2 linked regions of the Homo sapiens genome follow. The protein of the gene in region 1 purifies or fractionates together with the protein of each later gene. This does not show direct contact. Each region holds a gene or a part of one and is shown in the gene's direction. Other genes may lie near its edges.

Region 1 (5,406 bases):
TTAGAGGAGGTAAACACGAGTTGTTCTGTTGAGCACAAATTGGGGCTGACTCGCACCTGAGCCCAGTTGAGACAAAGGTGGCAAGAACTGGTCAGGAAGAAAAATCTTCCTTGCAGGGAAGAGCACTGCAGACATGTGCAAAGGTGAGGTTTGGGGCCCAGCAAGTAACTTGGATGGCTGTGGGTGGAGAGGGAGGCAGAGGCCAGATTATGAGGGGCCTTTTTGAGAGGATTGTATTCCATTCTGAAGATAGTGGGTAGTAATTAAAATTTCATTCATTAATTCTATAACATTTATTGACTGCTGTGGGCCAGACCTCTGCTGGCTGCTTGGACCATCACACATAAGAGCAAGACACAGTCCCTCCCCTCACAGAGCTCCCAGGAAGAAGGGGACAGACACGTGGACAGGTAGTGGCACCCGGAGCACAGAGAGGATGCTGTGAGTGGCTGGTTCACATTGTGGAAGGGTCTCTCTAGCAGTTGTGACATGACTTGCTCCTGTGGCATGGTGCAATTTAGAAGTTAGTGTCTACAAAGCCTACAGAAGATGCTATTTGTTTTTCATTCCTGAAACAACAGCAGACTGCTCATTCCTCACATTGCCATGGGAAGTTGTAATGGTCTCTGCTGCCCCCAAGCTGAGGAGCCTTAGACTCCAATACAAGGGAGGAAGGGGAAGAGCAAGATTTTTATTCCCACTGAGTAAGCTATTCCTTTTTAAAACTATCACCTTTTGATAAAATTTAAATCTTATATGTTTTAAAAGGATCAAATCATGTCTTCTCTTTGAACTTGTTAGCAGGGTCCTCAGGACTTTGGGGCTGGTTAGAGTGCGAGAAGCAGTGTGTTGGGTGGGCCCCTTGTTTGTGATAAGAGAAGCCAAGATGTGTGTGTTTCCAGGATCCATCCCTTTATTGATTCTGGCAGCTTGTGTGAGTAGGGATCTGGCTTTCAAAACCCACCTTAAGGCCAGGGAAGGGAAACAATCAGACTCCCTCGTTCTTGCCTTTTTAACATGGGGTATATATAGTATGGTGCCCTGGAATCAGCGCCAGCCTGGAATTTTGGAGATTTCAACTCAATTTCCAGTCTTCCAATTGACAACGGCATGGCTTAATTCGATTCCTGGCTTTGGTGTTTCTTTTTCTCCCTCCTCCTGCTCTCCTCCTTCCTGCTGTCCCTAGTGTAAAAGAGAAAATAAAGTGTATGCACTCTACCTTCCATTGCTCCTCTGAAGGATGAGATGCCTTTCTGGGAATACTTGGAAGTGGTCTATTCATGCACTGAAAAGCATTTTTTGGCCTGGAATCCAATAATCCATAAAGGAGATCTTTCCTACTCACAGAGATATCATAGCCTGGTAAGAACAACAGACTGAAAAGAAACATTACAGATGAGACAGGTGCTGTGTTTGGGCTGTGTTCAGAGGGTCGCTGGGACACAGGAGGCCCTCCAAGGCTTTCCTGTTTGGTGGTGGTAGATCCAGCTCATTGTGGTTCTCCCGTGCAGATGAGCAAGTCTTGGTCAGGATCAAAGCAGTGCTGCACACAAAGCTGGTGATAGCTGTTACCTTCCCCAGGCATATGCCTCCTCTTTCCTGAGTACCTCACATTTCAAATTTGACATAATGTTCAGAATCCTACAGTTCACCTAAAGGAAATCAGGAGCAGTCCTAAGAAAGAAATGGTGTTCCCCTGTCCTTACTGAGGTCCCAAACTGGTAGACCACTATAAATGAAAGGATGCTAGATGGGGCTTCAGGGGGCATGGAGGTGGGAAATGTGAATTCAGGAGTCTAACCTGATTTTGTGTTGTATACACTCATCCTTACCAACCTTCACTGTTTTGCTGATAGTTACACTTTTTCTGGGACTCATCTGTGGTTCTCTGCAGATAATGGCACCTGGACACAGCTGTGGCTTGTTTCTGACTATCATGAGCACGGGTCCCTGTTTGATTATCTGAACCGGTACACAGTGACAATTGAGGGGATGATTAAGCTGGCCTTGTCTGCTGCTAGTGGGCTGGCACACCTGCACATGGAGATCGTGGGCACCCAAGGTGAGTGGACTAGCGCAGGAGCGGCGAAGTGGTGTAGGCATGAAAGGTCCGCAGTGTCCTGATTTAGTTCCTAGAATTCCTTTTTACTGAGGAAGTTGGGGCTGGACCTCAGGAACTCTAGTTTAATTTAAAGGAAAGGAGGTTTGAGCTTCACTTAAGTGAGGTATCTACAGGGTGTTCCCTTCACCTCTGTCTTGATAGAACTCCCTCAGGAACCCTATAATATCAATATTCAGCTACTTGTCAATCAGTGGCTTGACATAGTCATTTGTTACGAAGGAGTAATCATCTTAGAATCCCACAATAGACATGAGAAAAAATGGAACTAAAAAGATAAACCAGTGTACTGGGAACATCAGTTTAGTGATTTCCATGTTCATTGATGGGGACAGCTGGCTTAAAGGCCACTTGGTGGATTAGATTCTGGGCCTTACTAATCTGGGAAGGTTTTCCTGGAGGAAGAAGACCTGAAGCTCTGCTACTTGTTGATTATCATGTCGGCTCTTTGGGAGATCCTGGATCTTGTCACAATGGCAGGTGTGATCCCTGATGCCTGGTTGACCAGGGCCACAATGGAAAATCACCCGTGAAAGTTGGATCCTATTCCTATAGCCTGTGCGGTGCCAGTTCTCATCATCGGGCCTGTTTCCTTCTGAGAACTAGGCATTGCAGCAACTTCCCTTCAGTCCCTCAGCACTTCTGTACCTGAGCATATTTGCTCAGGGAAGGCGAGTAGTAGTAGTAAATATTAATACAAATATTAGCTAAATACACATGTCCTTCTATGGTCGTAACTTAGCTACATGAATGCATTTAATCCTCACAACAGTCCCATGAAATAAGTAGTCATTCTGATTTTATGGATGAGAAGACTGAGGTACAGAGGGCTAAAGTCACTTTTCCAGGGTCACTGGATTAGCAGGAGGCAAAGCCAGGACTCAAACCTATACAGTCTGGCTGCATAGTCTATGCTTTTAACATTTATATCATCTCTTTGTAAAGATCCCTGTTTTTTTCTCTGCCAGGGAAGCCTGGAATTGCTCATCGAGACTTAAAGTCAAAGAACATTCTGGTGAAGAAAAATGGCATGTGTGCCATAGCAGACCTGGGCCTGGCTGTCCGTCATGATGCAGTCACTGACACCATTGACATTGCCCCGAATCAGAGGGTGGGGACCAAACGGTAGGAGGGCCTGGGACTCTGCCCTTGCTAAGCAGCTTCTACTGAGTATCCCATCTGTGCCGTTTCCCATATGCGCAGGAGAAGGAGGTGTTGAAAAAGGAGGCGAGGACCTTGCTCTCAGCCCACTGAAAGTTGAATTGAACATGCACTCCCCACAATGGAAAGTTGCATCACTGCATCTAACAGATACAAGTGCTGAGAGCACAGCTCCATAAACTGTATGCACATTGGTGTTGGTGGTATTAAGGTCGGAGGGTAGAGAAGGACAATCTAGAGCAGGATTTAGAAGGATAGCAGGCAACAGGTGTGGCTCGGGAAAGAGGGAAAACACTGTCATCTCCTGTGCAGAGAGCTGTGAAGGAGGCAGGGAGCATGTGCTTAGGGACTGGAGACCAGATTTGCCAAACTATAGCAAAGGTAACCCAGGATAGAGATTTGGGGCACCCTTCAAGATTATGGGCCTGCTTCCCACTTCATGCAGAAGTGAGGTAAGAAGTAAGGAGCTGTGATTGCAAATTGACTTCATGAGTTGGAAATGGGACTGCCTTTTAATAGAGTGGAAGAGGTGGAAATCTGCTGAATCTAAATGAATTTAATTAAGATTATCCCCTGATTTATTGTGGGGGCTGGGGTGGCTGGAATCATAGTAATTACTCATAATTACTACTCAGAGTCATTAAGGGTGCCGCTGACCACCTCTAGAATTAATTTTGACATATCTATAGTCAGGTAAGATAACAAAAGCAGTTCGGAATGAAACTTAAGCTCAACCCATCACTGTGACTACATTCAATAAAGTGAAGGACCCTGGTGTCAACCAAATATTAGGTACTGTTACTGCCCCTGTGACCCACATTACAAGTACTTCTGCCAAGAAGTCAAAACATGCTTCAAATAAACAAATCTTTACTCTCTCTTTGTTTTTTTGATATGGAGTTTCGCTCTTGTTGCCCAAGCTGGAGTGCAATGGCACAGTCATGGCTCACTGCAGCCTCCGCCTCCCGGGTTCAAGTGATTCTCCTGCCTCAGCCTCCCGAGTAGCTGGGATTACAGGCGCCTGCCACCATGCCTGGCTAATTTTTTGTATTTGTAATAGAGATGGGGTTTCGCGATGTTGGCCAGGCTGGTCTCCAACTCCTGCCCTCAGGTGATCCGCCCACCTTGGCCTCCCAAAGTGCTGGGATTACAGGCGTGAGCCACCGCACCTGGCCAAATAAACAAATCTTGATGGTTAAAAATAGAGATACACATCAGAGTAGCCTGGTATTGCCAAATCTGTGCTGAAGTATTTAGAATCAAATTTAAAACATGGGAGTTTGCAATGAAGAGATGTGTACACTTCTTCTGCCCCAAGGGACTTTATCAGGGTGATACTCTTCCACATTCAGAGGGCTCCTGAATCAATACTTTGATTTAAAGAGAGCAGTCATCATTTTCTGTGCGTGACCATGTTTGTTTTGCTATTGCAGATACATGGCCCCTGAAGTACTTGATGAAACCATTAATATGAAACACTTTGACTCCTTTAAATGTGCTGATATTTATGCCCTCGGGCTTGTATATTGGGAGATTGCTCGAAGATGCAATTCTGGAGGTACCTTTCTTTTTTGCCTTTGCTCCTACCTCCCATTCCAGGATGCTGGATCACCCAAAGCTGTTTTACTGCCCCCTTTCTTTTTACAACCTGTTGGATGCCTGTTGCCAGAGCCTGAATCATCGTTTAAGGTTGCCATCAAAGGTGTGGAGGTAGCTGTGCTTAGGGTGCGTTTATTCTTCAGGGATCAGTTTGTTGAATAGCGTTGTGTGTTATGGTAACCATTCTGAAGGCTCGTTTGGCTTTATAAACAAACAAACATTGTTTTATTAGTCCGTGGCGGGGAGTGCCCCGGTGCGCATAGCACGGGATTCATGCAGTGGTCTCCTTCACATCAGAAGCAGTATATTCTAACGCGGTGGCTCCCAAGCCACATTCATGGGAAACCCTGCTGTTTCATTGTTAAAATAATAGTGCTAATTTCTAAATTTATAAAAGTGCATAGATTTTTCTTAAAAGTGAGTTTTTTCTCCCATAGTTAAAAATCGTTGGCATTTGCAGCTGCTTATTCATGACAGAATCCAGTAAGAAATAGTATCAGATTTAGCAGAAACACTTTTTATTGTCA
Region 2 (5,406 bases), on another chromosome or scaffold:
GAAAATAGTAACTATTTTTCACCTAACTTCTCTAATTACCAACTGTGTATCTTTTTGGCCTTATTCTATGTAATTTATTTGGCGTCCATTTTTGCAGGTAAATCACATAGTGAGTATCCAGAGAGGACCAACTTATGTATTTAAACTTTTGTTTATTTAAAAGTTTTATAAACTTTCTTTAAAAGTTTTAAACTTTTTAAATCAAAGTTTTTTAAACTTTTTTAAACTTTTACATATTATGTTTTAAACTTTTTATATATTTAAATTTTCCAAATATGGGACTTGAGATTATTAATAAAATTTAAAATAATTAAATCATTCTAAATGCATTTAACTGTATTTTCAGGAAGTACACAGGCAGACACTGTGTCAGGATTTTTATGTGTGTGATTGTCATTACACTCATAATTAGAATGCTTAAACACACACCCTACCCCCACCTCCCCACACACATCCACTCACCCCCTAGGAGTGCAGCCCTGTCCCACCTTAACATTACAAACCTTCATTTGGGGCTATGCTGACAAATCTTCATTAAAAACTATGGATTACAAACTGGTAAACTGCAAGACAAATAAGGCCTTGAATTTGTTTGACCAACACAGTATTTTTAAAAAAGTAAATGTCTTTAGGTGGGAAATGCATGCCCATGTTGCTATAGTTGCAGCCCCTCCCTCTTTTAATCCCACTCTTTTTACACAGATAGTCACCTTTCTATTTTCTAATTAATAACTTTGTTCATATCAGCTAACCATTGTTGAATACTCACTACATAATTTACCTGCACTATTTAATTAAGTCCTCATAATTAGTTTGAGGTATACTATTATTGGGCTTCTTTGAATGTCCCATTTTATAGCTTTTCCTAGGAGGCATCAATTATTATTTCTTGAATGACTGCATAATGACAAAGGAAACTGACATACACATATTGCTGCTTAGTGCCATTTCTGTCCCATAGAGAATTTTCTTTGGGGATTTAAATTATGGTCAGAAAAGTAATTTAGGCAGTCCTGTGGTTTTTGTGGTGGTGGTTGTTTGATTTGATAACCAGTTACCTTCTCGGTGGCAGTGGAATAGGGTTGTGACAGTTGGCCAGAGTACCCTCCTGCCCACAGGGCTGATGAATACATGCATTGTGATTTTAATACTCCCTTCTTGCTTTAATGAGATTCTATTAGTTGCAGTATTAACTATTTTTGGCCTGGCTTCTTTAATAACAAAAGTTATTATTTTGGCTTTAATTTGCATAATTGATTTTGTATCCATGTTTGCCTTGAAGTTTCTTGCTGTGTTTGAATACAAAACTACTTGTTTAGAGGGTTTCAACATTCTTTTATAGTTTATAAAGGTAAGCATGCTGTTGATAATGTATTGTTGAATCATAATGAACAGGTGGCCTTTGAGGAAGACAAGGTCATTTGAACATCAAAAAGTACTTTGCTTTTTGTTATATATGGTGCTGATTACTAACTTTCTCTTGAGAGTTTATTTTCTTTGTTCACTAATTATTAATGTAAGCACGTAGAGCAAGGGATAATTTAAATACCAAATCCTTTGTGTCTGCTTTTGCTGCTTTGAATGTATAAGTTGGATTTATACATACATTTATCTTTATTTACAGAAATAAGCGGGTTTTGAAAACAAAAAAAAGAAGGAGTGGAAGAGGGGGCCAGGATCCAGGCCTCCATCCCCACAGAAGTGAAGCTACAGCTGGGAGGTCTCCTCCCACCCCAACCGTCACCCTGGGTCCCGACTGCCCACCTCCTCCTCCTCCCCCTCCCCCCAACAACAACAACAACAACAACTCCAAGCACACCGGCCATAAGAGTGCGTGTGTCCCCAACATGACCGAACGAAGAAGGGACGAGCTCTCTGAAGAGATCAACAACTTAAGAGAGAAGGTCATGAAGCAGTCGGAGGAGAACAACAACCTGCAGAGCCAGGTGCAGAAGCTCACAGAGGAGAACACCACCCTTCGAGAGCAAGTGGAACCCACCCCTGAGGATGAGGATGATGACATCGAGCTCCGCGGTGCTGCAGCAGCTGCTGCCCCACCCCCTCCAATAGAGGAAGAGTGCCCAGAAGACCTCCCAGAGAAGTTCGATGGCAACCCAGACATGCTGGCTCCTTTCATGGCCCAGTGCCAGATCTTCATGGAAAAGAGCACCAGGGATTTCTCAGTTGATCGTGTCCGTGTCTGCTTCGTGACAAGCATGATGACCGGCCGTGCTGCCCGTTGGGCCTCAGCAAAGCTGGAGCGCTCCCACTACCTGATGCACAACTACCCAGCTTTCATGATGGAAATGAAGCATGTCTTTGAAGACCCTCAGAGGCGAGAGGTTGCCAAACGCAAGATCAGACGCCTGCGCCAAGGCATGGGGTCTGTCATCGACTACTCCAATGCTTTCCAGATGATTGCCCAGGACCTGGATTGGAACGAGCCTGCGCTGATTGACCAGTACCACGAGGGCCTCAGCGACCACATTCAGGAGGAGCTCTCCCACCTCGAGGTCGCCAAGTCGCTGTCTGCTCTGATTGGGCAGTGCATTCACATTGAGAGAAGGCTGGCCAGGGCTGCTGCAGCTCGCAAGCCACGCTCGCCACCCCGGGCGCTGGTGTTGCCTCACATTGCAAGCCACCACCAGGTAGATCCAACCGAGCCGGTGGGAGGTGCCCGCATGCGCCTGACGCAGGAAGAAAAAGAAAGACGCAGAAAGCTGAACCTGTGCCTCTACTGTGGAACAGGAGGTCACTACGCTGACAATTGTCCTGCCAAGGCCTCAAAGTCTTCGCCGGCGGGAAACTCCCCGGCCCCGCTGTAGAGGGACCTTCAGCGACCGGGCCAGAAATAATAAGGTCCCCACAAGATGATGCCTCATCTCCACACTTGCAAGTGATGCTCCAGATTCATCTTCCGGGCAGACACACCCTGTTCGTCCGAGCCATGATCGATTCTGGTGCTTCTGGCAACTTCATTGATCACGAATATGTTGCTCAAAATGGAATTCCTCTAAGAATCAAGGACTGGCCAATACTTGTGGAAGCAATTGATGGGCGCCCCATAGCATCGGGCCCAGTTGTCCACGAAACTCACGACCTGATAGTTGACCTGGGAGATCACCGAGAGGTGCTGTCATTTGATGTGACTCAGTCTCCATTCTTCCCTGTCGTCCTAGGGGTTCGCTGGCTGAGCACACATGATCCCAATATCACATGGAGCACTCGATCTATCGTCTTTGATTCTGAATACTGCCGCTACCACTGCCGGATGTATTCTCCAATACCACCATCGCTCCCACCACCAGCACCACAACCGCCACTCTATTATCCAGTAGATGGATACAGAGTTTACCAACCAGTGAGGTATTACTATGTCCAGAATGTGTACACTCCAGTAGATGAGCACGTCTACCCAGATCACCGCCTGGTTGACCCTCACATAGAAATGATACCTGGAGCACACAGTATTCCCAGTGGACATGTGTATTCACTGTCCGAACCTGAAATGGCAGCTCTTCGAGATTTTGTGGCAAGAAATGTAAAAGATGGGCTAATTACTCCAACGATTGCACCTAATGGAGCCCAAGTTCTCCAGGTGAAGAGGGGGTGGAAACTGCAAGTTTCTTATGATTGCCGAGCTCCAAACAATTTTACTATCCAGAATCAGTATCCTCGCCTATCTATTCCAAATTTAGAAGACCAAGCACACCTGGCAACGTACACTGAATTCGTACCTCAAATACCTGGATACCAAACATACCCCACATATGCCGCGTACCCGACCTACCCAGTAGGATTCGCCTGGTACCCAGTGGGACGAGACGGACAAGGAAGATCACTATATGTACCTGTGATGATCACTTGGAATCCACACTGGTACCGCCAGCCTCCGGTACCACAGTACCCGCCGCCACAGCCGCCGCCTCCACCACCACCACCGCCGCCGCCTCCATCTTACAGTACCCTGTAAATACCTGTCATGTCCTTCAGGATCTCTGCCCTCAAAATTTATTCCTGTTCAGCTTCTCAATCAGTGACTGTGTGCTAAATTTTAGGCTACTGTATCTTCAGGCCACCTGAGGCACATCCTCTCTGAAACGGCTATGGAAGGTTAGGGCCACTCTGGACTGGCACACATCCTAAAGCACCAAAAGACCTTCAACATTTTCTGAGAGCAACAGAGTATTTGCCAATAAATGATCTCTCATTTTTCCACCTTGACTGCCAATCTAACTAAAATAATTAATAAGTTTACTTTCCAGCCAGTCCTGGAAGTCTGGGTTTTACCTGCCAAAACCTCCATCACCATCTAAATTATAGGCTGCCAAATTTGCTGTTTAACATTTACAGAGAAGCTGATACAAACGCAGGAAATGCTGATTTCTTTATGGAGGGGGAGACGAGGAGGAGGAGGACATGACTTTTCTTGCGGTTTCGGTACCCTCTTTTTAAATCACTGGAGGACTGAGGCCTTATTAAGGAAGCCAAAATTATCGGTGCAGTGTGGAAAGGCTTCCGTGATCCTCTCGCTGCACCCTTAGAAACTTCACCGTCTTCAAACTCCATTTCCATGGTTCTGTTAATTCTCAAGGAGCAGCAACTCGACTGGTTCTCCCAGGAGCAGGAAAAACCCTTGTGACATGAAACATCTCAGGCCTGAAAAGAAAGTGCTCTCTCAGATGGACTCTTGCATGTTAAGACTATGTCTTCACATCATGGTGCAAATCACATGTACCCAATGACTCCGGCTTTGACACAACACCTTACCATCATCATGCCATGATGGCTTCCACAAAGCATTAAACCTGGTAACCAGAGATTACTGGTGGCTCCAGCGTTGTTAGATGTTCATGAAATGTGACCACCTCTCAATCACCTTTGAGGGCTAAAGAGTAGCACATCAAAAGGACTCCAAAATCCCATACCCAACTCTTAAGAGATTTGTCCTGGTACTTCAGAAAGAATTTTCATGAGTGTTCTTAATTGGCTGGAAAAGCACCAGCTGACGTTTTGGAAGAATCTATCCATGTGTCTGCCTCCATATGCATCTGGGCATTTCATCTTCAGTCCCCTCATTAGACTGTAGCATTAGGATGTGTGGAGAGAGGAGAAATGATTTAGCACCCAGATTCACACTCCTATGCCTGGAAGGGGGACATCTTTGAAGAAGAGGAATTAGGGCTGTGGACACTGTCTTGAGGATGTGGACTTCCTTAGTGAGCTCCACATTACTTGATGGTAACCACTTCAAAAGGATCAGAATCCACGTAATGAAAAAGGTCCCTCTAGAGGATGGAGCTGATGTGAAGCTGCCAATGGATGAAAAGCCTCAGAAAGCAACTCAAAGGACTCAAAGCAACGGACAACACAAGAGTTGTCTTCAGCCCAGTGACACCTCTGATG

The links. The genes of interacting proteins can lie anywhere in the genome.
Region 2: the proteins of ACVR1B (region 1) and PEG10 purify together in Homo sapiens (affinity purification with western blotting; one study listed by BioGRID). This does not show direct contact.

What each region holds. Positions count from the first base shown.
Region 1 is NC_000012.12:51,982,105-51,987,510, forward strand, and holds part of ACVR1B (activin receptor type-1B isoform a precursor), read left to right. Parts: intron 1-581; coding exon of another isoform or gene 582-704; intron 705-1,239; coding exon of another isoform or gene 1,240-1,244; exon of another isoform or gene 1,245-1,888; intron 1,889-1,894; coding exon 1,895-2,062; intron 2,063-3,087; coding exon 3,088-3,244; intron 3,245-4,713; coding exon 4,714-4,838; intron 4,839-5,406. UniProt on the Homo sapiens protein: Transmembrane serine/threonine kinase activin type-1 receptor forming an activin receptor complex with activin receptor type-2 (ACVR2A or ACVR2B).
Region 2 is NC_000007.14:94,661,710-94,667,115, forward strand, and holds part of PEG10 (retrotransposon-derived protein PEG10), read left to right. Parts: intron 1-1,624; coding exon 1,625-2,825; coding exon of another isoform or gene 2,826-3,973; 3' UTR 3,974-5,406.